Linked DNA regions of Homo sapiens: region 2 is linked to region 1. A link means that fine-mapping ties the variant in region 1 to the expression of a gene that starts in the linked region. Tissue or cell type: whole blood. Region 1 holds a variant in brackets; the other region holds the start of a gene. All regions are shown on one strand. Distances are between the middles of the regions.

Region 1 (13,450 bases):
CCCACAGCCAGTCTTGGTCAGTCCTGAGCTCGGGTATTCCACAGTAAAGTGAGCGACATCACCTGTCTGAAAAGCATAAGGAGACTCCCACGTGGCGGTGCTGAGGGGCCACATCCTGGGCACCAGGCCAGCCAGTGCCCCGACATGAGTGTTGCTGGCTGGGAAGCAGCTGGCATTTGGATTGAAGTCCTGCAAAAACTGCCATGGCCAGAGCCTGCCAGGCAGAGCCTGCACAGAGCGGCCCAAGAGCTGGGCACGTGCTGGGCCTGGGTGGAGGTGGAGGCTGTGCCATGGGGTGCGGGGGACCCTGCTCACAGCTCACCTTGTGGTCACCCAGCACTGACCCCGTTCACAGCTCGCCTTGTGGTCACCCAGCACTGACCCACCCGCCCCACCCTCCTATCCACCGTGCTGTGAACTCACCTGCCACGGGTCTACACCCACTGTCCGAAGCCCTCGGCCCACACGGGCTCCAGGCCTTGGGATGCTTTGCGTTGCACCAGGGCTGCAGAGCCCAGATCGCTCACTGTCCGACTCTCCCAGGGAGGTGTGGGCGCCGCCCTGTGTCCCACCAGTAGCATTTCTGCAGCAGATGTGGGGATATTCACAGTAAGACGGACACGTCCAAGACCATAAATAGTTGGTTTTGCCACCACGTGGATGTCAAAAACACCTTGCTGTGTGGGGCCACTTGGAGGTGGGAACAGTGGGCGTGTGGACCTGTCCTGCTGTGACTTTGGTTAACACCCTGAGGTGGAGTCTGAAAAACCCCGGTGTACACGGGCTCAAGAACCGCTCCCCTTTCTGATACCGGAGCGCATTTCCCAGTGGAACCCCAGAGCAGCAACTCAGGTTCTTGCTCGCCTGTGCGGCTTTGTGTGCGGCTTGCCGAGGGCAGAAACGGCAGCTTCCGCCCGGAGAGCAGAGATGTGGCGTGGGGCTGAGTGTGGCCCACCGGTAATCCAGCTGCATGCCCCCTTCCCTGCCTGCACCTGGGCGCCGCCTCTGCACGATGAAGGCGGGCATTTGGTGTGGTCCTTACAGCCGTGTGCCCCATCCCACTGATCCTTGCCTGCCTGCAGAAAGCTACAGGATTGGCTTTGCCTTTAAGTGTCCTGACTGCCCTGGCCTCCCTTACCTACCATGACACGCCGAGAGCTGAGCTGTCCCACTCGTGACTAACTCGCCGTTGCCTGCAACCTGCTCCGTTGCCTGCCTCACACCACCCCGCTGTGCTGCCTGCAGGCACCCCCTTTCATGAGGACCTGGGCTGTGCCCAGGCGGCCCCCTGTGTTGCTGGGGCCTGTGCTGCTCTCGCACGGCCTCCAGAGCCTCCCTCGGCCCCTTGACCCGCATGAACCGGCTTCCCCTGGTGACTCAGTCCCCTCCCGTCCCTTCCTGGACCTCAGCACAGGCCCTGGGGCTGGCAGGTGAGCACCCGGCACCCCCGCTAACCGCTTGGCCCTGCTGCTTCAGGCTTACAAGAGTGCGTGCGACATGGCCGAGGCACGAGGCCGCCACCAGGAGCTTTGCATCCCCCTGTGTGTGGTGCCGGCCACGATTAGCAACAATGTCCCAGGCACAGAAATAAGCCTGGGCTCCGACACTGGCCTGAATGCTGTTGTTGAGGTAAGAGAACCCCGTTTCCTCTCATTGCTTTTCCGTCATTTATTTTAGCAACTTGTTTCTTCTGTGCTAAGGATGAGCCGGATTTATTCTTCTTCTTTTCTCCCCTTTGTTAGCTTGGCTTTATGTCACACTGGCCAGAACAGGGTAAAATTTTTTTAGCTTCTCTGCCTTAGGGAGAGCCTGTCTTTATTGATTAAAAGTGAGATGATATATCCAGTCCTTGGGATCGTGTTTCTATCCCACCTAGACTAGGGGAGCCGCAGGTACCATTGCTCTGGAGGCTGCCTCTCCTGCCCACGCTGAGTAGTGAGGCTGCAGGGCCAGCTGTGGGAGCCTGCAGGAAGGGGTGTAAATGCCCGGTAAGTACGAGCTCCAGGACAGAGCCGTACCCACTGGGGGCCGCTGCCTGGAAAACAGCCTTCCTGGTGAGACAAGAGGCTCTTTAGAGAGCCGAAATCACGCCCTCCTGGGCAGGCGGTTTCACCAACATGTGCCTTGGGAGGGGTGGATTCTGCCAGTCGTGGGTGTGGTGCTGACACCCACATGGTGGCCCCTCCGGTCCCTGATACTCTGACCTACCTCTATGGTCATAAGCTGGACATGAAGACCTATGGTAGTTCCACAGGCCTTTGCTGCAGAGACGGTCCTCACTCAGCTGCAGACAGGACGGTGGCCACCGTGACATGTGGGGTCACGTCCGTGACTTGGCCACCTGGTGCGAGGGACCCACAGCAAAGCAGAACTGCTGGCCGGGGTAGGCCTGCATCGCGTGCGGGGACAGCAGCCACTGGCCTTTACCTTACATCTTGACGTCCAAGCCAGCTCCGGAGTTTGCAGTGAAAACTCCCAGTCCTGCTGGAGACTCCTTAGTTCAGCTTAGCACAGAACCTCGGAAGACAGCAGTTCTATTCCGGGTACTTCCTTCAGAGCTGAGTTACAGTGCAGGGAAGGGAGCAGAGGAGCCATGAGGTCGGCTGCAGCTTCCTGTGAGTCCGAGCCTCAGCCTCCCACTCGAGCTGAGGGGCGTGTCCTGGCCATCTCTCTCCTAGGCTTCTCCCTGTGTTCCCCAGTGCTGTGGTGGTCTTGCAGAGGCTGGCCCTGGCTCATTCCCAGGACTTCCTTGGGCCCCGCACTTGACCCCTGTTGGGTGAATGCCATTAGGGTCCGGCCATCGCTGGCTTCACTCTCCTTTAGCACCTTGTAGATGTCCATGCACACTTCCACCCTCGCGCCCCACACGCGACGCAGCCCTACCCTGGCCAGCAGCTGTGCTTTGCTGCGGGTTCCATGCTGTAGCAGGGACAGGACCCCCACCCCCTGTCCCGTCTGGCCACCGACTTCAGCAGAGGCTCGGCTGCCGTGAGGGATACCAGTCATGGGAAAACTGGCCTCCCTGCAGATTCACAGAGCAAGGTGGTTCTCACAGAGAAGTCAGTGGCTTTTTTCTACGTTAATGCTGTAGCAAACGCCACCTTTTCTTTCACCACCAATTTATATTTCTTAACACCCATGGAGCAAAGTGTGGTGATGTTTGAACTGTAGCCTGGGGCTCTCGCTCCCATGGGACTCCTCGGGGAATTTCTCAGCAGCAGGATCGCCTCTGCGTCCTTGCAGGGGGTGGCGTCTGCTGGGGGCACATCCCATCGTGCAGGGGGAACGGCTGAGGTCACAGGCTTTGCCTGACAAGTGCCACTCACAGCTGCTGTCCACGTGCCAGCCCTGGGACACAGCCCTCTGCCATCCTTCCACCCACTCGGAGGCCAGGGAGGCACCTCCGTGCCACACTGCAGGCAGGCAGGGCCGCGCTTGGGATCTGCCGCCTTCTTGTCAGTGCTGCTTTGACTAATTGCCTGAGGCACGGCCGGAGTGACTTGCTATTTTTAGAAGCTAATTCAGGCTTCAGATGCCATCTAGGTAATGAGGAGAGAGTTCAGGAAAGCTGTATCTAAGCTCCAGCAAAGGCGGCCTCTTCCGTACCAGCTGTCGCTGCGTTTACACTGAGACGAGCACACAGTCGGGGGCGTGGCTCAGGTGTCAGGGCTGCGCTGTTCCACAGCCCCCTGGGGCAGCCTGGCGGGACCAGAACTCAGACACGCCTGGGCACAAATCAGCCTCTTGGGAGAGCTGCTTTGCCCGCAGAATTCTTTTGCCATTAAGCGGTTGATGTCATTCTTTGAATGAGTGACAGTAATTCCCCACCTCAGGGTGGGCTGCGGGGGAGATTCAGTTGGAAAAGTAACCCATGAGGTTTTGTGCCTCTGGGGGTCCTGAGGCCCCACCCGTGCCTGGGATTCTCTAAGACAAAGGAGAAGTCTTAAAGCCTTACAGCGTCTTAAGTCTTAGATCACATTTAGAGAGACCCGGTACAGGTGGAACAGTGCAACCCTCAGAATTCTGCACTGGCCCTTCAAGAAGGCAGTTGTGGGCTCTTTGGACCCTTGACGGGGATCTGTCCTCTGTCCTCCTAAGCACAAAGATGGGAATTCTTCCCATTGCCTGTTTCTCTCCCCATCTCGGCTTCTACACAATGCAAAGTGGCCCGCTAACTAGAGTCCGTGTTCAGTTTTGAATACATCAACCAATTATTTTGGGAAGAAAAGAATCTGCCAAAGAAACTGGAAATACAGTTTGGAATCATTTAATCAAGCCTGCATTTATTAATCAAAGTGCACTTTTAGATTTCATCCGAAGTGCTCAAGTGAACATTTCCCAATGGGTGTTAAACTTGGGTGCACAGACTCTCACGTGGCTCCTAGTCTCAAGTCCACACCCCCACTTCATGCTCTTACTCTTGGCTGAGTCCCATGGAGGCCCATTAGGGAATCCTGCAGGATCAGCCGTTGACCAGGACGGACGGACGGCTGGCTGGGGAATACCATGCTTATGTCATTCAGAGACAAGCATTTCTTGAGCGCCTGCTGTGGGGGCTCGGCCGGGTGCTGCTGATGGTGCACTGGTGTAAGCCCAGCCCACAGTTCCTGTCCTCATGGAATTTGCAGCCTAGTGAGGAAGATCCTCCCAAGTCAAATAACCACAAGGTAACTGCAGGGAGAGACACCGGGATAATTTCTGTGAAGAGAGGACATGGGGTGGCTCCGAGAGCCCCTGACAGAGGGAACTTTGTGGTCCTAGAAACCAGGTGGTGTTTTCCTGAGGAAATGACATTTTCCTCTGGATCAGAGCTGAGGAAGGTGCCTCTGTGTGTCCCGTGGCCGCTGTGACACTGACCACACACCTGGGGCTGGAAAATAATACTCTCTCCCACAGCTCTGGAGCGCAGGAGCCATGGGCTGAGGCCAGAATGTTTGCTCCAGGAGCGTCCCTCGTGGCCCGTTCAGGTGCCCAGAGTTGCGGGCCTTGCACGCCTTGTACGCCTTGTTCCCTGGCGCCTCCTCCTTCCATGTGGGTGTGCAGCATCCCGCTCCAGGGCCTTCAGCCTCTGCGCCCCTCATCTGCTGATGCAGGTGATGGCATTTAAGGCCCACCTGGGTACTCCTAGGATTCACCTTTATCACCGCATGAGGGAGCATTCCCAGGTTCCAGGGATTAGGGATAGGACTGGGATTCCTTTGGGGGCTGCTCTCCCGCCCACCACTGTGCCGGAATGTGATGCACACAGCGGCCAGCATATCCAAAGGCCCCAGGAGGACCTGGGGTGGCTGGAACAGGACCTGGTGCCGGGAGCAGGCGGGGCCGGGGATTCCCGACAAAGGCTTGATGTGTACTTGAAGTGAGCAAAGGGTTTTGAATAAACCAAGAACTGGATCAGATTTATGTTTTTTATAGATGGGGTCCTTTCTGTGTGAACGGATTGGAGGGTCCCGGGGTGGGAGCTGAGGCCCAGGAAGAGGGCGTTGCAGCCGGACTGATGTATGGGTGGGAAGGCGGCCGATGCATTTCTTTGCCATTTTTCTCCCCGCCGAGCTTGGGTCCTCATGGAGGGCGGATGGCAGACATTTCACTCTGGGATCCGATGCCTGTGCATCTGGAAGACTTCCCCAGGTGCCTGGGTCTAAGAACCACCATCTGCCTTTGAGTAGAGTTTCCATAAATGTAACATTCGCCAATGGATGGAAGATGGCCGCACCTCTAAAATCACAGGGAGCTTTTCAGAAGAAAATAGAATAGCACAGCGGTTCTCACGGACTAAGCTGGCAGGGGACAGTCCCCTAACATCTCAGCTAACACCTAACGGTGTCTGTGTCCGGTGAAAGCGGCTTCAGCAGGGACAGTCACAGAGCAGCGTGGAGTGAGCTGGCTTGTGGGGTCGTCTTTTCCGTCCCCTTCTATGGGGCCTGGGAGAAGGGAGCGGCAGATGGCCAGGCCCCCAAAACGGGACATCGAGGTCACCTCCAGGTGGCTGCCATGGTGGGGTTGCGGGGGACCACGTTCACACCCACTCCGAGGGCACATCCTGGCTGCTGCACACCCTTCACCTCTGCGGGATGCTGGGACCGCATGTTTGGGCGCGGTGGGGGGGCCTTGCTGCACTCACTCTTGGGGGAGCTCTGGGATGGTGGGCGCGCCCCGGGCCTGGGCTGGAGTGACTGATCGCTTCTCTGTGACCAGACCTGCGACCGCATCAAGCAGTCCGCCAGCGGAACCAAGCGGCGCGTGTTCATCATCGAGACCATGGGCGGCTACTGTGGCTACCTGGCCAACATGGGGGGGCTCGCGGCCGGAGCTGATGCCGCATACATTTTCGAAGAGCCCTTCGACATCAGGGATCTGCAGGTATGTGACGGGGCTGGCCTCAGGGCCCGTCCCCTTGGGATCCACTGGGTGCTGCGGAGTGAATCATCGTGTCTAGGGTGGTTTGCTTTCCAAGGGGCATGGAGATGGAGATGCTACAGAACATGCCACGCTTGATACACTTCGCATCGCCCAGGTGCCCCTACTGCGTGTCAGGTGACGGTGGGTGTGCCTGGTTGAGGACACCTTCTAGTCTCATGTGTGAAACACAAGCTTGTTTGTTTGACATAGTCTGTTGTGTAGTTAATGTTGTCTCACTTATGTCACCAATGATTTGAGAACCTCCGCTGACAGTCACCACCCACGTCTGCGACAGGCTCTGAAGGTTGCTGCAGCTTCTTTTAAATCCTGAGGCCCCTGATGCTGCGTCTGCCTCTAAACGGACACAGACATGACCGTGGTTTCTCGGCATCTGTGGCTCTTTTAGGGAAGGGTGTCGCTGACCCCGCGGTCTGCCCCTGCTTGGACGACACAGCAGAATCCAGGCCTGGACCCTGCAACATTCAAAGTTGCTAAACTTCATGCAAGATGACAGGCCTTGGCAGATAAAATGCAACTTGAACAATTGTCTTTATTTAGAGAGGGAGTCTTGCTGTCACCCAGGCTGGAGTGCAGTGGCGTGGTCTCGGCTTACTGCAACCTCCAACTCCCAGGTTCAAGCGATTCACCTGCCTTAGCCTCCCAAGTAGCTGGGATTACAGGCACGTGCCACCACGCCCAGCTAATTTTGTATTTTTAGTAGAGATGAGGTTTCACCATGTTGGTCAGGCTGGTCTCAAACTTCTGACCTCGTGATCTGCCCACCTCGGCCTCCCAAAGTGCTGGGATTACAGGCATGAGCCACCGCGCCCAGCACCATTGTCTTTTAAAAAGTTAGGATGTTACTTGTTTCTGAGCCAAATAGATCAAGTAAAAAGGGCCTTGGCACTAATTATGTGACATGTGAATCACGAATTTCTTTACCATGTCAAATATTTGTGGAGTCATTCACTGCATCATGATGTTTCTGTCAACAGTGGGTCCCATAAGATTATAATGGAGCTGCCCCAAACAGGTGCAGTTTTTTATCTTTTATAAAAACATATCTTTTTACATATATTTTTATAATATATATTTTATAAAAAGATGTTTTTTATCAAAAAATATGTATCTCTTACTGTGCTTTTCTACATCTAGACATGTTTAGATACACAATTGCCTGCAGTATTCAACAGTCCCAGACATTCAGGTTTGTAGCCAGGAACAACAGGTGTGCAGCAGGCTCTGCCTCCTGGGTTTGTGTGAGTTCACTGTAGGATGTTTGCGCAAGGCTTAAGTCACCTAGCAATGCATTTCTCAAGGAACATATCCCCCTGTTACATGACTCATGACCGTATTTCAGAAATCTATCCAAAGATCCTGCCTCACCAGCGCTCAGCATGGCAAGGGCTTAAGAGAAATTATGACAGATTTTTATTTTTTGCTTTAATTTTTGAGATGGAGTCTCGCTCTGTCACCCAGGCTGGAGTGTAGTGGCACAATCTCGGCTCACTGCAACTTCCGCCTCCTGGGTTTAAGCAATTCTCCTGCCTCAGCCTCCCAAGTAGGTGGGACTACAGGCACCTGCCACCACGCCTGGCTAATTTTTTGTATTTTTAGTAGAGACGGGGGTTTCACCATGTTGGCCAGGCTGCTCTCAAACTCCTGACCTCAGGCAATCTATCCGCCTTGGCCTCCCAAAGTGCTGGGACTACAGGCATGAGCCACCATGCCTGGCCTCCTACTTTGTGAAATTCTGCCATTGCGCCCAGTGACAGATTTGATTAGATGTAAAAACCTCCATTTTCTTAGGATGAATCATTAGAGAATTACCTCCCTCTTGTAATCCTCCTAACATGATCTGAAATGGGGATGTTCTTACTCTAAGACCATCTTTTCCTTAAGAAATCTGTGTATGAATGTGAGTCTACAAAATTCTTTGGTCAGACACTGCTCATCAGGCCGTCACATGAGATTCCATAGAAAGGCCACAGGTCACTCTTTCCTCTGAGAGCACCGAGAACATCGTCATGCAAATAAACAAGGAGCAATAGAGCCATGAATGATCACTAGGCAAAGCACGGAATTACCATTTTCAGAGGGACCCTGTTGACTCTGGAAGGTGTTGCTAGTGGCCGCCGTGAGGGCTGCTCACCGTGCCCTGTCCTCAGCGTTCATCGCTGCAGACGTGTCCTCCCTATCTGGGAGGAGGCTCCCCAAGACCCAAGCCGCGAGAGCTGCAGCCTCCTTGGCCACGCTCACTGCCACACTTGGTTGGCACTTCCCAGCCTGCAGTGCCTGGCACACAGTAGGTACTTAGTAGAAGTTTATTGTCTGATTAACAAAATACTCTCTTCCAGTCCAACGTGGAGCACCTGACGGAGAAAATGAAGACCACCATCCAGAGAGGCCTTGTGCTCAGGTGAGAGAGAGAGACCAGGGGCTGATCTTACCCTCACCGCCACACCCTGGTTCTTAGATTCTAGTCTGTGACTTGGGCTGGATGAGTGGTCATTTCTTTGCCGCTAGAGTGCACTACACACACTGAGCAGGTGCAGAAGACAGCTGTGGTGCATTGCTCTAAAGGCTTGCCTGCATTTAGACAACTAATATTTTTGCTTTATAGTCTCTTATTCTTTGATATCTTGCAATCATTTCCCTAATTAGCACCTGATGTTTATGAAGAAAGAAGGAAATACAGTCATCCCTCTTAGCCTCAGGGACTGTGTCCCAAGACTGCAGTGGGTGTCTGAACCTGGGGATAGTACCCGCCCCCTGTATACACGAGGTTGCTTCCATCTGATAACCAAGG[T/C]GGCTACTGAGTGACTCGGGCAGGAGGCACAGACAGCATGGAGATGCAGGGCACAGGGATGATTGACGTTCTGGGTGGGACAGCAAGAGAGCACGAGATTTCATCACGCTACTCAGAATGGTGTGCAATTTAAAACTTACATATTTATTTCTGGAATTTTCCATTTAATATTTGTGGGCCTCAGTTGACCACTGGACCATGGGTAACAAACTGCAGAAAGCAAAACCGTGAACTGGAGGGACTGGTGTTGATGTAGAATCACCATAGGGTTGGGGGATGCGGGAGTCCAGCCTCCCAGGGCCATCTCCCCAAGCAGGGAGCCACGTGCCCACTGCACGCTAAACAAAGTGACTCCTTCTCGCTCGTTTCAGAAATGAGAGCTGCAGTGAAAACTACACCACCGACTTCATTTACCAGCTGTATTCAGAAGAGGGCAAAGGCGTGTTTGACTGCAGGAAGAACGTGCTGGGTCACATGCAGCAGGTAGGCCCGAGACTGCATGAGGGGCCACAAAGCCCCTGTCATGTGACTTTTAAAAGATTAGTGTCTTATTTTAGCCATTGTGGGGAAAAATGTATAAGTAAATTCCAAGATGATAAAAAACATCTGAACTTTTTGAGACAGAGTCTTGCTCTGTTGCCCAGGCTGGAGTGCAGTGGTACAAGCTTGGCTCACTGCAACCTCCACCTTCCAGGTTCAAGTGATTCTCCTGCATCAGCCTCCCGAGGAGATGGCAGTATAGGCACCCACCACCACACCCAGCTAATTTTTGTATTTTTAGTAGAGATGGGGTTTCACCACGTTGGCCAGGCTGGTCTCAAACTCCTGACCTCAGATGATTCACCCACCTCAGCCTCCCAAAGTGGTGGGAATACAGGCCTGAGCCACTGTGCCCAGCCAAAACATCTGAACTTTTAAGTGATGCCAAACATCACCAGCTTTAGGATTCTTTTGTTGGTGAGGTTTGAGTAATGGGGATTTTAAGGGAACTGTCAGCTTTCATGAAAACAGTGATACCCCCATTACTTGGAAATGCTTATTCAAATTAAACACTTCATCAAGTTAAAAACTGGAGCTTCCCTAAGATTTAAAATGGATTATCAGACATGTAGTATACTTGACACCCCAAGTCAGAATGACCTGGAATGAGCTGCACACAGGCACACACGTGTTATGAGCTGAGCCTGGGACACAGGGTCCAGGCCTCCTAACTTGCACACACTCCTTCCTCACCACCTCCTATTCTTATACTTTTAAGCCAGAGCCCATGAATCCCCTGCAATGATGATGAAATAGTAGGCATATGTGTGATCTTCTTAAAGAATCCACAACGGTTATCAGATTAAAGCTGTGACCCATCCCCAGCTCAGATGAGTTCATGAAATCCTGATTTAAGATTTTAAAATAATGAAGATTGTTAGTTGACTTGTTCGGTTTATTAAAATCCTCATCTTACTGAGCGGGGGGAACACTTGATACTTTTTCTTAACAGGCCAAGTTCAGGCTACGGGAATCACAGGTTTTGTTCTGTTCCAACTATAAGGACCTAGAAATAAAAACATGAATTCTGCAAAATAGAAATTGTCATTTCTATTTAACAGCAAAGTGTTACTGTATAACTGGTATTTCATATAACTCTAACCACCAACAGGGTGGGGCACCCTCTCCATTTGATAGAAACTTTGGAACCAAAATCTCTGCCAGAGCTATGGAGTGGATCACTGCAAAACTCAAGGAGGCCCGGGGCAGAGGTAAGGGGTCTGGGGAGGGAGGCCACAGCCTCGTGATGCAGGCCGTCCTGCCTTGGTGAAAATGCTGTCCTATCGGGGAGAAGTAGGGTGCTGGTTCCTTCTTCAGTTCAGTACTGAGCTGCACGTGATGTTTTACTCCTGATCTCTGAGTGTTGCTATTTAACCAACCTTGGATTCCTGGGATAAGATCAGCTTGGGTATGACATGTTCTCTTTTATCACTGCTAGATGCAGTCTGCAGTTCTTTTGTGCAGGCTTTTTGCTCTAGAGATCCTGAACGTTGGCCAGCAATTTCCCCTCACAGTTTAAGTGGGGCCTTCTATTTTTTGAATGTTTGCTAGGACAACCTCCTTGTGACTATCCATCAAAACTTCCAGTTTTGAGGAAGATCTGACTGCTGAATGAATTGTTCATGTTTGTAGAACTGCATGTTCGTAGAACTGTGCATGTTCTTCCTTAAATCAGTTCTGTAAGTTACATATTCTAAGAAATCTTTAAACTGAAGTTTCAAGAAACATGACTTTTTTATAATACTCTTGTTAATGGCTCCAACATGGCTGTTCCCCACTCATTCCTGAGTGGCTCTTTGTGCCAGCATCTTTCTCACCCCCACCCCCCTCAGCTTTCTTAATCAGTCATAGCAGATGTGTGCTTTTATTCCGGCAAACCACTATCACTGCCAGTGTCCAACTTAGAAAAATGACAGTCTATAAAAACCAGTGATGTGAATAGTTTCAATGGGTTTGTCTTTTTGAAGAACTGACTTTGGCTTTGATTCTTTCTACAGCGATTTTCTTTTGCTAATTTAGCTATGGATGCTTTTTGCCTCTCAGTGTGTGTATGTGTGAGCATAAATTAGTGTCCTGTAATTTAAGCTAATTTCCCTATTCCACTATTTAGTGAAAAATTCTCTCCACTGGGAGGAAAAAACAAAAGCTGCTTTCCAGGAAGCCCTCGGGGCAGTCCCACAGGAGCAGAGCTGCACGAGGCCAGGTGCTGGCCCCACTGCGCGGCTGTTCTCAGTCTCACTGGGCTTCCAGGCCGGGTTCAGCATGGTTCTGAGGAATCTCAGTTCTCATCTCGCCCCGTGATTCTGCTCCCCCACCTGCCCATGTTGACAGGGTGTTATTAATCTTTTTTAAAATCTTTTATAGGAAAAAAATTTACCACCGATGATTCCATTTGTGTGCTGGGAATAAGCAAAAGAAACGTTATTTTTCAACCTGTGGCAGAGCTGAAGAAGCAAACGGATTTTGAGTAAGTTGGCTGGGTTCCCTGAGGCAATAAGACCCCAATGTGAGTACGGGACAGGGGAATGGCCATTGCTGTTGCTGTCGGCAACTCATTCAGGGGTTTGAGGAACTGGCTTTTCTGAAGCTCAGTTAAAAAAATACTAGGTCTTGGCTGGGCGCGGTGGCTCATGCCTATAATCCCAGCACTGTGGGAGGCCGAGACAGGTGGATCACAAGGTCAAGAGATCGAGACCAACCTGGCTCATATGGTGAAACCCCATCTCTACTAAAAATACAAAAATGAGCCAGGCATGGTGATGCACACCTGTAGTCCCAGCTACTCAGGAGGCTGAGGCAGGAGAAATCGCTTGAACCCGGGAGGCAGAGGTTGCAGTGAGCTGAGATTGCACCACTGTACTCAAGCCTGGCGACAGAGCGAGACTCCACCACTGGGTCTTCGGGAATAATTTTAAACAATGGTTTCATTTGATCCTGAAATTGGCTTTATCATCTAGTTGATTCAGCCGACCCTACAAACCCTGTGTTTCTGGCAAGACCGCTCGCTGTGCTGGCCAGGCGGAGGCATCTCCCGCCAGTGACTGCAGGCCTCACTGCTGTCTCCTCTTACCTCCACAGGCACAGGATTCCCAAAGAACAGTGGTGGCTCAAGCTACGGCCCCTCATGAAAATCCTGGCCAAGTACAAGGCCAGCTATGACGTGTCGGACTCAGGCCAGCTGGAACATGTGCAGCCCTGGAGTGTCTGACCCAGTCCCGCCTGCATGTGCCTGCAGCCACCGTGGACTGTCTGTTTTTGTAACACTTAAGTTATTTTATCAGCACTTTATGCACGTATTATTGACATTAATACCTAATCGGCGAGTGCCCATCTGCCCCACCTGCTCCAGTGCGTGCTGTCTGTGGAGTGTGTCTCATGCTTTCAGATGTGCATATGAGCAGAATTAATTAAACATTTGCCTATGACTCCAACAGTCCTCTGTTTTAGTTTTTTAAGTAGGAGATTAGTACCTCAATCTATGGGTGGCTACTAAAGGTTTTCTCAGTTTTGTGGGCAAAGATTAGCAAAATATTTTTATAGGGATCACTGAACTATGCACACGTCATACAAGGAGAACAAAGCCAGGAGTTCACACAGGCCAAGGGGAAGGCCACGTTTACTCACCATTCCATATCTGCCATGTGTCAGTTTCCATCCACAGCAGCAGGCCGGGACCCTGGGCCTCGACCCCAGGCTCCT
Region 2 (15,393 bases), 64 kb before region 1:
TTAACACATATGACTCTTGCTGCTTCCATATGACACTAAAAGTATCAGGAGTGCCAGGAAGTCTCTTTAATCGTCGTTCTCCAAAGTGCTCAGGAGATGAAGTCATTCTGTGAAGTGGACTTCAGTTGACACCACTGAGAAAATGTCCCAGAGAAAGTAAAACTTGTAATGGCATCATACTTTACAGAAATAATGCAAACTTCTTTCTTTCCTTTCTTTCCAGTTTTTAGATATTAATTTTAATTGGTTCAGGGCAACCTGTTTCTGCATCAAAGTCTTGGGAAGCTTCCAACTGTTTTTATTTTTACTTTATTTTTTTAGAAATAGAGTGTCACTGTTTCACCCAGGCCAAAGTGTAGTAGTATGATCACGGCTCACTGCAGTCTCAACCTCCCAGGCTCAAGCAATCCTCAGGCCTCCACCACCTGAGTAGCTGGGACAACAGCTGTGCCACCATGTCCTGCTAATGTTTTATTTATTTATTTATTTATTTATTTATTATAGAGACAGGATCTCGTTATGTGGCCGAGGCTGACCTCAAACTCCTGGTCTCAAGCAATCCTTGTGTCAGCCTCCCAAAGTGCTGAGGTTATAGACATGAGCCACAGCACACAGCGGATTTATTTTATTTTCTCAGAACTCTATGCAACCTGATTCTGCATACTTAAGGAAAAAGAAGCCAGACAAAGGTGGAAGTAGTTACACACAATGTGAGCATCATTTGGCACTTAGACAAGAGAGGCAGATTATAAAAATAAAAGATTCACATGTCACAATTGGCTGTGGGCTTCGATATGGACTCCAGCACTTTTTATTTTTACTTTTTTGGGAGATAGTGTCTCACTCTGTTGCTCAAGCTGGAGTGCAGTGATGTAATCATAGCTCACTGTAATCTCAAACTCCTGAGTTCAAGTGATCCTCCTGCCTCAGCCTCCCAAGTAGCTGGGACTACAGGTGTGCCATCGCTCCAGGCTAATTTTTTTGGATTTTGTAGAGACGAGGTCTCCCTATGTTGCCCAGGCTAGTCTCAAACATCTGACCTCAAGCAATCCTCCTGCCTTGGCCTCCAAAGCTCTGGGATTATAGGTGTGAGCCACTGTACCCGGCCGAGAAACCAACCCCACCTGTTTTCTATATAAAGTTTAGCATCTAGATACAAAGCAAAATACTTTTTAAAGATCAAAGAATCTGCAGGGAAGCTGGTGGGAGGAGAATAGGCTGAAGGCAGCGTTTTCTGATCTACAGTTTTGCTTATTCTTGAACTTTCCAAAGTCCCGAAAGAAGCAGAAGGAAAGTGAGAAGAAGGGAGGAAGAGGCAAGAGGAAAGGAGGATGGTTGCCCCTCTGTGGTTGCAGATTAGCCCAAGGCAGCTCAGTGGCTGGCAAGGAAAGAAGGAATGAAACCCCCAAGGCCGAAGGCAGAGTCAGAGTCCTGGGTCCAGCAGGGTCTGGAGGGGAGGAGGGTGCCGGCAGCCAAAGACCTTCCCGCTAGCACTGCAACCTCTTAAATTGCTTACGCTTTTATCCAAATTTGATGTGTCTGCGTTTTGTAGACTTCCAAAACAAGTCACTTAGGGTAACGCAAGCAGGAAGGGGAGGATGATAGGAGAAGGGGCCCCACCTGATGCCGCCCTTCTGGCTTTTATCCATTCCTGGGAATGACGGGGGACGCCCCTATGGGAGATACAGTGGCGTGGAGCAACAGTGGAGAATTCCAAGTCCGAAAAGCAATTGGCATTTTAAAGGAAAGTAAGAAATCACCCTGAATATATGAAATACTGGGAAAAAAGGTTGTTACTGATAATTCTCAAGAGACCACTCTGGTGAGATTGGGTTTCTCTGGGGATGTGTCAGGCAGGGTATAAGTACTGAGTGGGCACCTCCTACCCACCCTTCAGGCTCCTCCCTCAGCTCCTGTCTCCTGAAGCAGTCAGAGGGCAGCTCCGGTCCTCACCTCCTCTGAGCGACCCGCTCACTCATTCACTCACTCATTCATTCACTCACTCATTCATTCACTCACTCATTCGGTCACTCACTCATTCACTCACTCACTCATTACTCATTTACTCATTCACCCCCTTTTACTCAATCACTCATTCATTCACTTTCACTCAGTCATTCACTCATTAACCAATTCACTCACTCATTCACTCATTCACTAACCCATTCAGTCACTCATTCACTCATTCATCACTAACCCATTGACTCACTCACTCAATCACTCATTCACTCACTCAATCACTCATTCACTCATTAACCCATTGACTCACTCCCTCAATCACTCATTCACTCACTAACCCATTGACTCACTCACTCATTCACTCACTAACCCATTGACTCACTCAATCACTCATTCATTCACTAACCCATTGACTCACTCACTCGATCACTCATTCACTCACTCATTCACTCATTCACTAACCCATTCAGTCACTCAATCACTCATTCATCACTAACCCATTGACTCACTCACTCAATCACTCATTCACTCACTAACCCATTGACTTACTCAATCACTCATTCACTCACTAACCCATTGACTCACTCCCTCAATCACTCATTCACTCACTAACCCATTGACTCACTCCCTCAATCACTCATTCACTCACTAACCCATTGACTCACTCAATCACTCATTCACTCACTCAATCACTCATTCACTCACTAACCCATTGACTCACTCAATCACTCATTCATTCACTAACCCATTGACTCACTCACTCGATCACTCATTCACTCACTCATTCACTGTGGGGAAAAGAAAGAGAGACCAGACTATTACTGTGTCTGTGTAGAAAGATGTAGACATAAGAGACTCCATTTTGTTCTGTACTAAGAAAAATTCTTCTGCCTTGAGATGCTGTTAATCTGTAATCCTACCCCCAACCCTGTGCTCCCTGAAACACATGCTGTGTCAACTCAGGGTTAAATGGATTAAGGGCTGTGCAGGGTGTGCTTTGTTAAACACATACTTGAAGGCAGCTTGCTTGTTAAGAGTCATCACCACGCCCTAATCTCAAACCACTCCCTAATCTCAAGTACCCAGAGACATAAAGCACTGCGGAAAGCCACAGGGACCTCTGCCTAGGAAAGCCAGGCATTGTCCAAGGTTTCTCCCCATGTTATAGTCTGAAATATGGCCTCGTGGGAAGGGAAAGACCTGACCGTCCCCCAGCCCGACACCCGTAAATGGTCTGTGCTGAGGAGGATTAGTAAAAGAGGAAGGAACGCCTCTTTGCAGTTGAGATGAGAGGAAGGCTTCTGTCTCCTGCTCCTCCGTGGGCAATGGAATGTCTCGGTGTAAAGCCGATTGTATATTCCATCTACTGAGATAGGGGAAAACTGCCTTAAGGCTGGAGGTGGGACATGCTGGCAGCAATACTGCTCCTTAAGGCATTGAGATGTTTATGTATATGCACATCAAAAGCACAGCACTTTTTTCTTTACCCTGTTTATGATGCAGAGACATTTGTTCACGTGTTTACCTTCTGACCTTCTCTCCACCATTATCCTATTATCCTGCCATGCCCAATAATGATCAATAAATACTAAGGGAACTCAAAGGCCAGTGCCGGCATGGATCCTCTGTATGCTGAACGCCAGTCCCCTGGGCCCCTTTTTCTTTCTCTATACTTTGTCTCTGTGTCTCTTTCTTTTCCAAGTCTCTCGTTCCACCTAATGAGAAACACCCACAGGTGTGGAGGGGCAACCCATCCCTTCAATTCACTCCCTCATTCACTCACTCCCTCATTCACACACTCAGCCATTCACTGACTCACCCTTTCACTCACTCATCCATTCACTCATTCACTCACTTATTCACTCACTCACTCATTCCCTCATTCATTCATTCACTCACTCACTCATTCACCTCTTCACTCACTCATTCACTTCAATCATTCACTCTCTCACTCATTCACTCACCCTTTACTCATACACTCACTCATTTATTGACTCATTCACTCATTCGTTCATTCACTCATTCACTTGTTCACTCACTCATTCACTTGTTCACGCACTCATTCACTCACCCATTCACTCACTCACCGGCTCATTTGCTCACTCACTCATTCACCCACTCACCCATTCACTGAGTCATTCATTCACTCACTCACTCATTCACTCCTTCGGTCACTCACTCACTCATTCACTCATTTATTCACTACTTATTCACTTACTCACTTATTCACTCACCCATTCACTAAGTCATTGATTCATTCACTTATTCACTCACTTATTCACTAAGTCACTCGTTCATTCACTTATTCATTCACCCATTCACTCACTCACACATTCACTCACTCACGTTCACTCATTCACCCACTCATTTCACTCACTCATTTACCCACTCACTCACTTACTCCTTCACTCATCCACTCACTCACTCATTCACTGACTCACTCACTCACCCATTCACTCATTTACTCCTTCACTCACTCACTCCATTCATTCAGCAGCACCCATGGCAGGTTCACTCTGTCCTGGGCTCTGCTGTTGCCCTGGGCCTGCAACAGGGAATAGTCAAAGATCTCTGAATCCACAGCATTCAGAGTTCAGCAGGGGGGCCTGTCGAGAAGCCCAGCAGATAGGTGAAATGCCCCACGTGTGACACGCATGAGGCTGTTTTAAGAGAAGCGGGGAGGGAACAGGAGTGTGCATGGAGCCCGAATTTCTAACAGGGTGATCTGGGGAGGCCTCACCATGCAGGAGACCTTGCAGGACAGACCTGAGGAAGGTGGGAAGAGTGGGTAGGGAGAGGAGGGCCCGGGCTGAGGAAAGAGCAGGCTGGGCCTGAGGTTGTCGGGTGCCTGCATGGGTCTCTGGGCAGCACTAGGATCCGATGGACCAGTGGGCCATGTGTGGGGCCTGTGACTCCCAAGTCAGCAGAGGAGATGCCTGAATTACATCCTGATAGGTGCACCCTGACTTTGAAGCTGAGGACACCCGAGGCATGGAGGTGGGGTGGAGGTGGGGGCAGAGCAGGGGATGGGGAGGGAGCCTGTGTCAGTCCAGGTCACAGGTGGTAGCTTGGCCCCAGTGGCTCCAGATGCAATGAAGAGCCAGGAGGGACCTTCCTGAGAGACTTGGATGCCAGGGTAGAGGAGCACTGCAAGGCTTCAGCCTGAGACCCTGGGAGGATGGGGTCACCAGGAGCTGAGGTGAGGAAGACCGAGGGGTGGGGGGTTGCGTGGGGGTGCAGAGGCCTAAGCTCAGTTTGGCCCCTGCAGATTTGAGATGCCTACTCCATGCACAGGCAGAAACAGCAGGGGAAGGGAAGAGGCTGCAGCTCAGGTAGCCCTGGTGGTGGAATGTGCAGCCCAACATGCCGGAACACAGGGTTATGGTGCCCTCATGGCTAGGAGCTGCTTTCCTCCTGGGATGGCAGGACTCCTTTAGGGCACATGGGCAGCTCCTGCGCTCACCGCAGAGGGGAAGTGGGAAGGGCATCTGTCCCTATGCATGTTCTCCTTCACCTTGTCCTAGGCAGGTCCCAGGCAGCACCTCCCCTCCCAGTGGCTCCCCGTGGCCCCTGCCCCTAGTGTTCACAGCCAGATCCTCGAAGAGGGCTGGACTCCGTTGCTCACTTCTAATGAACAGAATCAGGCAAAAGAGACGGCGGTCTTTCCTGAGATTGGATTGGGAAGGGCTGCAGGTTCCGTCCACTGGAATTCTCCCCCTGGCTCTTGACATGTGCTAGTTCTGGCAAAGCCAGTCACCTGCCCAGGGCAGAGGGCAGCCTGAAGCTGATGCCAGGGACAGACTGGGGCCTTCAGTCCAACAGCCTGCAAGCAACAGAATCCTGCCAGCAACACAGGAGTGAGCGTGGAAGCAGCTCCTCCCATGATGAGCCTGAGCCTTCAGAAGACACTGTAGCCCTGGGCAGACACCTGTTGCAGCCACAGAGGGCCCCTGGGGCAGAGGGCCCAGTGAAGCCTGTCTGAACTCCTGGTCCAAGGAGTAATCATTCCTGTGGTATAAGTGTGTGCTGGTGTGGGCCACAGTTTGCAGTAATCTGTCAAGGGACAATAAAGAACAAACACACATGTCAGGTCCTACTGGGTGGAAGCCGTACAGTCAACAAGGCATGCAGTATCTTCCTCTTGAATTAGAAGATTCATTGCTCAGGCCAAAGATTAAACAACAAAAAAAAAATCTCTAGTTGTAGCACCATTAAAATACACGACTTGCAAAAAAAAAAAAAAAAAAAAAAAAAAAAAAGAGCCATAGCTATGCTTTTCCATCTTAGCTACAGGTATATATAAATATATGTTAATTCCTTGACTGACTGAGCAATGGGTCAAACTCATGAGAATAGATGTGTGAGGACGGTCAGTGACCACCCTGACCCCAGCCCTTACATACAGACAAACTTTTGAACATAATCCATAACCCTGGGGATCTGGACACTCTAAATTTTATTGTTTTTAATTAACTATTTCTATTCCCCAAACAATACCTGTTCATTGGAGAGAAAAATGGCATTACCTATACTAAGCAAAAGAAAGGAAATAAAATGCTCAGAAACATTTACGTGTGTGCACACTCACACACACACTTACACGCACACGTGCGCACATGCAAGCACAGGCTCACACTGTGTCCAGGCCTGCCTTTTCATTTATTTGTTTGACCTGAACATATTTCCATGTCAGTCGACACTTATCTTCGTAGTGGTAACAGCAATTAAATATTATCGCAGCGTATATTTTTAACCATCATTTATTTAACTCGTCATGTTTGAACTGTTAGGTTGTATTTATCGTTTTCTGTATTACAGACGACTTGATGACAAATGACCAATCCTCTAATGTTCAATATAAAAATATCAATTGCATAAGGAGATAAGGGGCATTTGGCTAAAATAAAATTCAGTGTGCCCCACCCTCTCCACATGTAATTTGCTCTAAAAAGGCATGAATGACTAAATTAGCCCTTCTATTCTCCAGCGCAGCTCCTGAGCCCAGCGGTGGGTGCAGGTGCTTAGAGCCTGGCTCTGCTCTTCTGCCGCCAGAAGGCGAAGGGCACCCAACCCAGGATTCTCCTCTCCTTTTTTATTAATAGAAGAGTGCTCAGGCTCAGTGCATGAGAGCAGCGCTCTCTGACTTTGCACTTATCAGAGTAACCTAGGGGGCTTGTTTAAAAATACACATTCCCTGGCTGAGCTCCCAGAAATTGGACTTCAGTGGTTTAGCGGGAGTGTGCATAGGCCAGGTGATTCTGAGGACCAACAGGGGTTAGGAATTGCCCCGTTAATTCTGGCCAAGGGAGAGATCAGACCATCCAGCATTGTCCGCAGCAGAGTTTTTCCCCCTCTTTTGCAATGAATATTTGATGCTCAGAGGGATGAGCCCCAGGATGAGGCACACATCCAAGAAAAATCCATGCCTCTCCATCTTTTCCCCAGGATTGCCCTAAGGCGAGCCGCTCTTTGTGATTCCTTCACTTTCCCCGGTTCATAGAACAGGCCTCTTCTTAGTCTGTTTTGTTGTCTCTTATCTGTTCAACAAACACCCACTGCGCAGGACCATCCTCCGGTGAGCCGTCGAGTGGGGCCGTTTGGGAGCCCTTCTTCGTGGGTGAGCACTGAAGGAACCCGGGTCCCATAAGCCCGTGCTTCTATGGGGGCTGCCCCCTCTCCCATCGCAGGGTAACTGGCACCAGGCTGTTAAGCTGTGGATGGGCAACCGCACAGTGCATTGGATGTGAGTATTTCAGTACGTGGAGCTGGCCAGTGGAGCCGGCCGAGGTCAGGCAGAGCGTACAGCAGCGCGCGTGTCCGTGGGGAGGGAGGGTCCTCCCGCCTCCCCGCCTCCCCGCCAGGCCAGTCCTGTTGCGCCTCCTCCTGCCCCACTCTGACTTTCCAGCGCCCAGGCCGGGGCGCCGCCAGGGCGTCTCTGAGGGTCGCGCCCCGATACCTTCCTCCACCCCACGGCTTCTTCCCCCCAAGGGCGGGGCTGGGGGCCCAGGAGCACCACAGCCCCCATGGGCCCGGGAAATGGCAGCTTCGTCATGGCCCAGCCCGCCACGCTCACCTTTTCCCACCACCTGGAGGATCCACTCTCCGTCCGTCCTTCCCGACCTCAGGCTGCAGAGGAAACCTGGGGGCGGGGGTCGAGGAAGCCGAGCCCCGAGGCTCCCAGCGCCGCCCCAGGAGGAATCTTGCGGGCCACTAGAAGCTGTGCGCGCGGCCGGGCTCGGCCCCCACAACGGCCCGAGCGGCCGGGCCTGCCGCGAGCCTCCGCGTCCAGGTGGGGTCTCCGCGCCCCCATTCCACCCCTCCCCGCCATCGGCGCTCCCCGCAACTGCGGGGTTTCCACCCGCCCCGGCGCTCGCGCCCACTCACGGTCTCCCTCGCCCCCCCGGGAGATGCTCCCGGCGTTCTATCCCGCCCCGCCCTGGCGCGCCCCGCAAACGATGTGACCCCGGCCCCCTGCGGTCTCCCCTCCTCCGGACGCTGCCCCTGCCCCACCTGTGGCGCTCCCGTCATCTCTAGAGCCCCCAACCAGAGTCCTCCAGCCCACCCGCGAGGCTCGCGCACCTGCGATGCGGCCCCACTAGCAGGGACCCGCCCACCTGTGGCGCTACCCCTGCCTCTGCCGCCTCCCGCACCGCTAGCGCGGCCCCCACCTACGACGACCCCCGCGTAGATGCTCCTGCCCACACCCGCCCCAGCCCCGGCCCCTGCCCCTAGCCGCGCCCGCGCCCCCTCCCCCGCAGCCCCTCCCATACGCTCGGGCCCCGCCCGTCACCGCCCATTGGCGCTGGGGCCGGGCGGGGGCGCGGGCGGGGCGGCGGTTCCGAGTCAGGCGCGCGCGGGCAGGGTCCCCATTGCCTGCTGCGCACCCGGACGTGCGGCTCCCCTCGGCCTCCTCGCCATGGACGCGGACGACTCCCGGGCCCCCAAGGGCTCCTTGCGGAAGTTCCTGGAGCACCTCTCCGGGGCCGGCAAGGCCATCGGCGTGCTGACCAGCGGCGGGGATGCTCAAGGTGCGCGCCCCCCTCCCGGCGGCGAGGGAGGGACGGACGGACGGAGCTGGGGAGAACCGGGCGAAGGCGATGGGGTGACCGGAGAGAAGAGGGGGGAAGCGATGGGGGGGACCCGGGGAAAGGTGGCGAAGCGATGGGGAGAACCGGGGAGAAGAGCGGGGAAGCGATGGGGAGAACCGGGAAGAAGCCCGCGCCCGGAAGCGGCAGGGGTACCTGCGGGGCGGCATGAGCCGGCGAGGCAGCCCCGGGGTCCTTGCCCGGTGGGGCGGGGGAGGAAGGGACATGGCGGTAGGAACCTCCATCCGGAAGATCAGTGAGTTTTCCACCTTCGGTTTTGTTTTAAATGGAACCTGGCAGAGGGAGTCGCCTGAAGCGCCCTCGGGGGTCGTTCTGCCTCTGAGCTGTAGGACGGGGCCGGGCGTCCCCTCCGAAGCGTGGGTACAGCGCGATCACTTCCTAAGTGCCCCCCCGCCCCCCAACTCCGCCGCACGCCACCCCCTAGAATGTCGAGGAAGAAACGGCTGGGTCCCCGCGCGCCTCCTGTCGCCTCGTGCCCTGCGCGGCGTGGGCGGGGTCCTGGCTGCTGCAATGCGGGACGCGGCGGGGGTGCGCGGGGTTCCCGCCTGGCGTCTCCAGGGCGGTCCGGCAGCCCCTCGCGTTTCCGCTGGGAGATTTTTAAAAAGGGTTTCCTGCGCTCGCATGTGCTGTCGCCTTCCGGCTCGTGACAAAAACGAAAACCAAAATGGGTCCCAGGCCCTCCCCGCCAGCCTCCGCAGACGGGAAGGATCAGGAAGCGGGGACTCCGGGATGTCAGCGGCGCCGCGGCGCGGGCTCCGGGCTTCCCTGCCCTGCAATGTGGAAGCTGCTCTCTAGGAGGGGCCCGAGGCTGGGCCCACGGACGCGGGCGCGCCGGGAGGATATTTAACATTGAAGAGCGGAAGGTGGCGGAGACTCGGCGCGCCCCAGGCCCCGGGTGCACGTGGGGGCGCCGGTGCCCGGATGATGGAGTGTCCCGATCCGTGCAATCCCTGGCGGGTAGATCGGCGCTTCCCAGGCGAACGCAACCTGGGAGCCTTAGCGATCGCGCAGGCTGGAGACGCGGCGCGCCCCGAGCTGGGTTTTGATTTTTGTTTTCCCGGTTCCTCCTGCCGCAGATGCGTGGAAAGGCCCGGATGGCGGATTTCCTCCCGTTTCGGGGCCGCGCACTGCACAGGGTTGGAGCGGGGATGCACCCCCTGCCCACTGCGCGGGTGACCTTCCCTTCGCCCTTGAGCGCGCGGGGCGGGCGCGGGTGCCGCAGGTTGAGGCGCTGTGGGCGCCGCCCCGCCCGCCACGAGCGCCTACGTGATGCCCGGCCCGTCGTCTCCACGAGCCCCGGCCCCGACACCCGTGCGCCGCGCGCTCCCCAGGCCCGCAGCGCAGCCTCCCCAGGCCCAGCGCCCCCCGCGGGAGACCCGGGTGGCAGCGCCAGGCCCCGCCCCGCAGCCCGCCCTGCAGCGCCCCCGGGAAGTGCTCTGGCGTTAGCATTCCAGTAAAAGGACCCCAGCATCAACGTTCTTCCTGCAGGGCTGGGTTCTCAGAGAAAGAAAACGTGATGCAGCAGAGGATGGGATTGAAGAAACAGGAGAGTGAAGTGGAAATAGCCTGGCCCGCGTGACTTAAACCGGCCCGGAGATGTGCGGGTACGAATGGAGCCGCCTTGGGGTCGGGATAGGACCCAGAGTGGCTTCTCAGTCAAAGGCCTTCAGAAGCAGAGGGAGCACCTTGAGTGACCTTACCTGGGCCGCGAAAGACAAGAAACCTTTGGCACAGGAAGAGGAACTGATCTCTGGAAGCCACCAGGGCGGGTGGAAAGTCAGGGTTTCAAGGTTATTTTGGAATTTAGGTGCTGTGGGCCTTGTACGGTGGCTCATGCTTGTCATCCCAGTGCTTTGGGAGGCCGAGGCAGGAGGCTCGCTTGAGCCGAGGAGTTCCAGAGCATCCTGGGCAACATAGTGAGACTCTGTGTCTACAAAAAAAAAGAAAGAAAAAAAATTAAGATACTGCATGTATTGGAAAATATTTATGGGTCATTCCTTTGAGCTCCATGTCCAAAAGCTTGCTAAAATGCGCGGGAGTTTGTGTACAGGCATGTGAGATTAGGATACATTGGCAGAATCGCGGTGTTCTCTGTTACCCTGGTTTTGCCACCTGGGAGGAGTTAGACATATTGAAGGTTAGTAAGTCCACGCCTCTTCTTTTCTGGGGAAAATGATACTTTGGAAACCAATATTATGTGGGGAACGCGGCTTGGTTGCTGCAACCTCGGGTTAATAGGAGACAGCTGCCCTCAGCTCTGCAGGTGGCATCAAATATGGTGGCCTCGAGCCCACATGGGTCACACCTGGGCTGTCCCTGGGGAAGCCCGCCATGGCGGGTCGCCTGGGCACTCTTTCCCTGGCAGAGCTGAAGTCACAATTTTTTTGTAGACTCTGTAAAGAGCTTTACCCTTCGGTGATACGATCTTGAACCTGTTGGAGCATTTGGACGCATTTCTTTTAAGGAAGTTCACCTCCAGATGTACTCAGAGGGCCTGGTCTTAGCTGCCACAGATTTACAAACCCTTACAGTAAGTAGGTTATTCCTCGAGAATATCTCAGTGTCCCCATTCTTTTACCATTTTATTCTGATTCTATGTTAGTACTTGATTTTCCCTGACATAGAAGACTATTGCTTGTAGCTAGAGATGAGAGAACATATTCACATTCACGTATTAATTTCAGGGGAATTTTCTGTCAGATGTGAAATTATGGTAAAATTCCGTATATTAAGATGATCATAGCTACCATTTGTTGAAAACATTTTGTATTCTAAGAGCTTTACACTTCTTATCTCCAAGCCTAAATACATGATCCCAAGAGAGGCGTGTCCTCATTTTGGAAGTGGGGAGAAAGACTCAGAAAGAAAAGTAAGTTAGGTAAGGGCATGAGGTGCATACGTGATTGTGATAGGAGCAAAACAGATCTTAATTCCAAATATTGTACTCTCCCGTAGACCACGAAGAGTACTTATGTCTGGCTGTGTCACCCAGGCCAGAGTGTAGTGGTGCCATCATAGCTCACTGCAGCCTCAAACTCCTGGGCTCAAGTGATCCTCCTGCCTCAACCTTCTGAGTAGCTGGGAAGACAGGAATGCACCATCATGACCAGCTAATTATTATTATTATTATTATTATTATTTTTGTAGAGACAGGATCTCACTATGCTGCCGAGACTGGCCTTGAACTCCTGGCCTCCTGTAGTGATCCTCCTGCCTTGGCCTCCCAAAGAGCTGGGACTACAGACATGAGCCATTGTGTCAGGCCTCCACCATCTCCACCATGTTTTTCAGGGACCTTTCTTGGTGAAGCTGCTTTATCTAGTTAATGCTCAAAAGTGAGCAAAACCCGATTTGCCCAAAATTACACAGATATTCTTTGGGTGGCTTTGTTAGGGGAACGGAAAATGCCTTTTTATAGTGATAGGAGTCCAGGTGGCAAGAACGATATTATGTGATGGGCTGCTTTTTCTTCTCTCAGTAGAGTGTATATTATTTAATTATAAGATACAATTGAAAATCTCTTTCTCTTTTCTATATTCCCGACTCCCCGGGCCTTGAATGAAGAAAGTATTTCTCAGGCTGTTTTTGTTTGTTTGTTTGTTTGTTTTTTCTACTTGCTTGGATATCTTCTGTCTCAGGCTGTTTTTTTTTTTTTTTTTTTTTTCTTTCTCTTCTTCTGCCTCTTTATGTATCTTCTGTTGTCCCAAGACATGTCTGGAAACTTAAATTGATTTTCACTCAATCTGAAATAAGCTCCATAACTCTGAATGGCGGACTTACCATGACTAAGTCCCCACTGCCACAGAACACTGTGCCACACACCAAGAGTGACTCATTGTCTTAGTCACAGGTTGTGGCTTCTGAAGGTCCTGGTGCCTGGTGGAGCTGAGTGTACTGGGAAGTCCAGGTGCATCCTTAGGGTAGGCTGCATGTGAAAGCTGCGTCCTTTTTGCCTGTGGTGAGGTGAATATCAATACAGTATTTATAGAAAGTCCACATAAATTGAGTAAGTACAAACCTTTCCAATCCTAGTGAGAATAACTAGCATTAATGACTCTTTGTTATGTGGCAGGGCCTCAGTGATCCTGGGCAATGACTTATCCCTATTTTACACATGAGCAAGGGGCGCCTGAGTTGCACCACCTTCCCTGAGTTCACAGAGCTCCGTGGTGGGGCCGGGCCCTGTGGCTGCAGCAGGGATGTTCAGGGCTGCGCGTACCTGCGTCTTCACTGGTGTCTTTCCCGCGCCCAGCACCATGCCTGGCGCTTCGCAGGAATGCAAGTGTTTGCTGCCTGCCTCCTGCCTGGAATCTCCACTGAGGAGCAGGAAACCAGGGGTTCTAGCTGTCTTCTTCGTCCATGAAGTCCTTTAGAGGAATTCAACCCTCTCTAATTAAAAGTATCCAATATCCTCAGGTCAATATGTGTAAACTGTTAAGACTTCAAGATTAGAACCTTAAAACCGAAGTCAGAAGTGTGAGGTTTCCATTGGCTGGACGTGCATTAGGTCAATGACACACATATTTATTGGACACCAGGCTTGAGCCCCACATGGGCACCTTTGGTGTCTGAAGCAATGCTGGCTTCGGAGCCCAGTAGGGTGGAAGGGGAAACTGAGAACAGCGCCATTTTGCCTCCCACGGCTCTGGGCCCGTTACCTTCCTGTGTACATACATTATTTGATGGGATCTTTTCAGTGTAAAGTGCAGTAATTAATTTTGCAAAAATTACTGGGTCTGGGAGGCAGTGTGTTGGAATGATGGTGTCACCATGTGGCACAGTGGGAGATTTGTGTAATGGCATCATTTTCTGTGAATGCAGACCGTTTTGTGTGCCATACTCGAATGACCCTTCGAAGCTAGACATTTTGTCATCTTTCGAAAGAAGCATGTTTTCCCCCTTGGTTACAGAAAGCTAAAAGCTTTTGATACAGGACTCCAACCTTTTATCAGGGAGAATTAGGCTCTTTAAATAATTAGGGCTCTACCAATCTGATGGGCCATCAGAAGCAATTAAAATTAGAAAGGTGAAGATACGGTAACGTAGTCAGGACAAACATCAGGATACCAGATTGCACGTTCACAATGGCATTTCGGCTAAGAAAGTGCGGGTGAATATAGAACAGAGGGCCGTATGTCAGTAATTGGGTTCCGTTTTGTGTTTCTTTTCCACAAGCCCTTTCTGGTGTTGTGTTTTTGTTTATTAGAGAGTAGCTGCCCAAAGGCTACAGTTTCCCTCCCCACTCCTCGGTTCTCTCCGTCTTCACCCCCAACTCCCAGTCCTGTGTTTGGAATTACAGTCATTGTGCTTGTCAGGATGTAAGAGGCAGCCAGACACATGGCAGACCAGAGCACTGAGAGGCAGAGACATTTATAGGTCCTAGCCCTGGTCCTGCTGTCTGGGTCAGCAGGGTGCTGAGTGCTGAGTGCTGAGATAGGGTCTTGATGTTTTCCTCTGCAGAATGGAGGCATCACTCAGTCTCTGTCTCCTCTCCCTGTCTCTGTCTTCCCTCCCCTCTTCCCTAACACATATCCACAGTGAAAGTGTTCAGGAGGAAAAGAGAATAGGCTGGACTGTGCTGGGACCCCCAACCCCAGGGCCCGTGTGCTATTTTCCCAGCCTCCGTGTGCCCAGAGATGCCTAGGGGAGCCTGCGGAGGTGTAGATCCTGACTGTGTGGGTCTGAGTGAGGCTCCGACTCTCACGGGGAGGGCACCGGTGCTGCTGGACCCCCTGGGGCCAGTGGAGCGGTTTGCAAATCGGGCAGATCAGCTTCTCCACTTCTCCAGGTTTCCCCAATGTGAGATGCTCCCAGGAGTCCCATGGGATTGTTTTCTGACTTTGACCAGGATTTTGACAGAGAAGATTCATTAATATAGGACCCCTTGTCTAAACGTACATATGTAAATGATCTGATCCGAAGTTTCCTGAATGGAAAATGATTGAAAGGGTGGCATGCAGTAGCCTCGGGGAGTCAGTCCTTCATATCTTTTCAGCTGTGTCTTACTACGATTAAGATTTTATTTCTGTGTGTGTGTGTGTTTTTTTTGTTTGTTTGTTTGTTTGTTTTTGAGACGGGATCTTGCCCTCTTGCCCAGCCTGGAGTGCAGTGGCTTGATGTCGGCTCACTGCAACCTCCGCCTCCTGAGTTCAAGCGATTTTCCTGTCCCAGCCTCCCAAGTAGCTGGGATTACAGGCATGCGCCACCATGCTCACCTGATCTTTTTTGTATCGTTAGTAGAGATGGGTTTCACCGTGTTGGTCAGGCTGGTCTCGAACTCCTGACCTCAAGTGATCCACCTGCCTTGGCCTCCCAAAGTGCTGGTATT

What was found. PIP is the estimated chance that this variant, and not a neighbour inherited with it, causes the effect.
Region 2: it holds the start of PFKP, and the variant in region 1 is fine-mapped to the expression of PFKP in whole blood (TOPMed, PIP above 0.99).

Annotation. Positions count from the first base shown.
Region 1 is chr10:3,123,621-3,137,070 of GRCh38, forward strand. It overlaps PFKP (phosphofructokinase, platelet), which reads left to right. Exons shown (of 22, transcript NM_002627.5): 17 at 6,199-6,363; 18 at 8,760-8,821; 19 at 9,583-9,694; 20 at 10,863-10,962; 21 at 12,116-12,218; 22 at 12,830-13,182. The coding sequence ends at 12,959. SNORD142 (small nucleolar RNA, C/D box 142) reads left to right here and starts at 10,484; the gene lies at 10,484-10,678. RefSeq lists enhancers at 5,595-6,108, 12,363-12,864, 12,865-13,364. The variant T/C (reference allele first, on the strand shown) is at 9,212.
Region 2 is chr10:3,058,721-3,074,113 of GRCh38, forward strand. PFKP (phosphofructokinase, platelet) reads left to right here and starts at 8,828. Exons shown (of 22, transcript NM_002627.5): 1 at 8,828-8,987. The coding sequence starts at 8,876. It overlaps LOC124902536 (wiskott-Aldrich syndrome protein family member 1-like), which reads left to right and starts at 7,850. Exons shown (of 1, transcript XM_047426132.1): 1 at 7,850-8,628. The coding sequence starts at 7,983. The coding sequence ends at 8,420. It overlaps PFKP-DT (PFKP divergent transcript), which reads right to left and starts at 8,213. Exons shown (of 4, transcript NR_160681.1): 1 at 8,033-8,213. RefSeq lists enhancers at 4,116-5,066, 9,867-9,936, 14,729-15,230 and silencers at 8,557-8,656, 8,667-9,066, 9,487-9,666, 10,080-10,260, 10,347-10,546.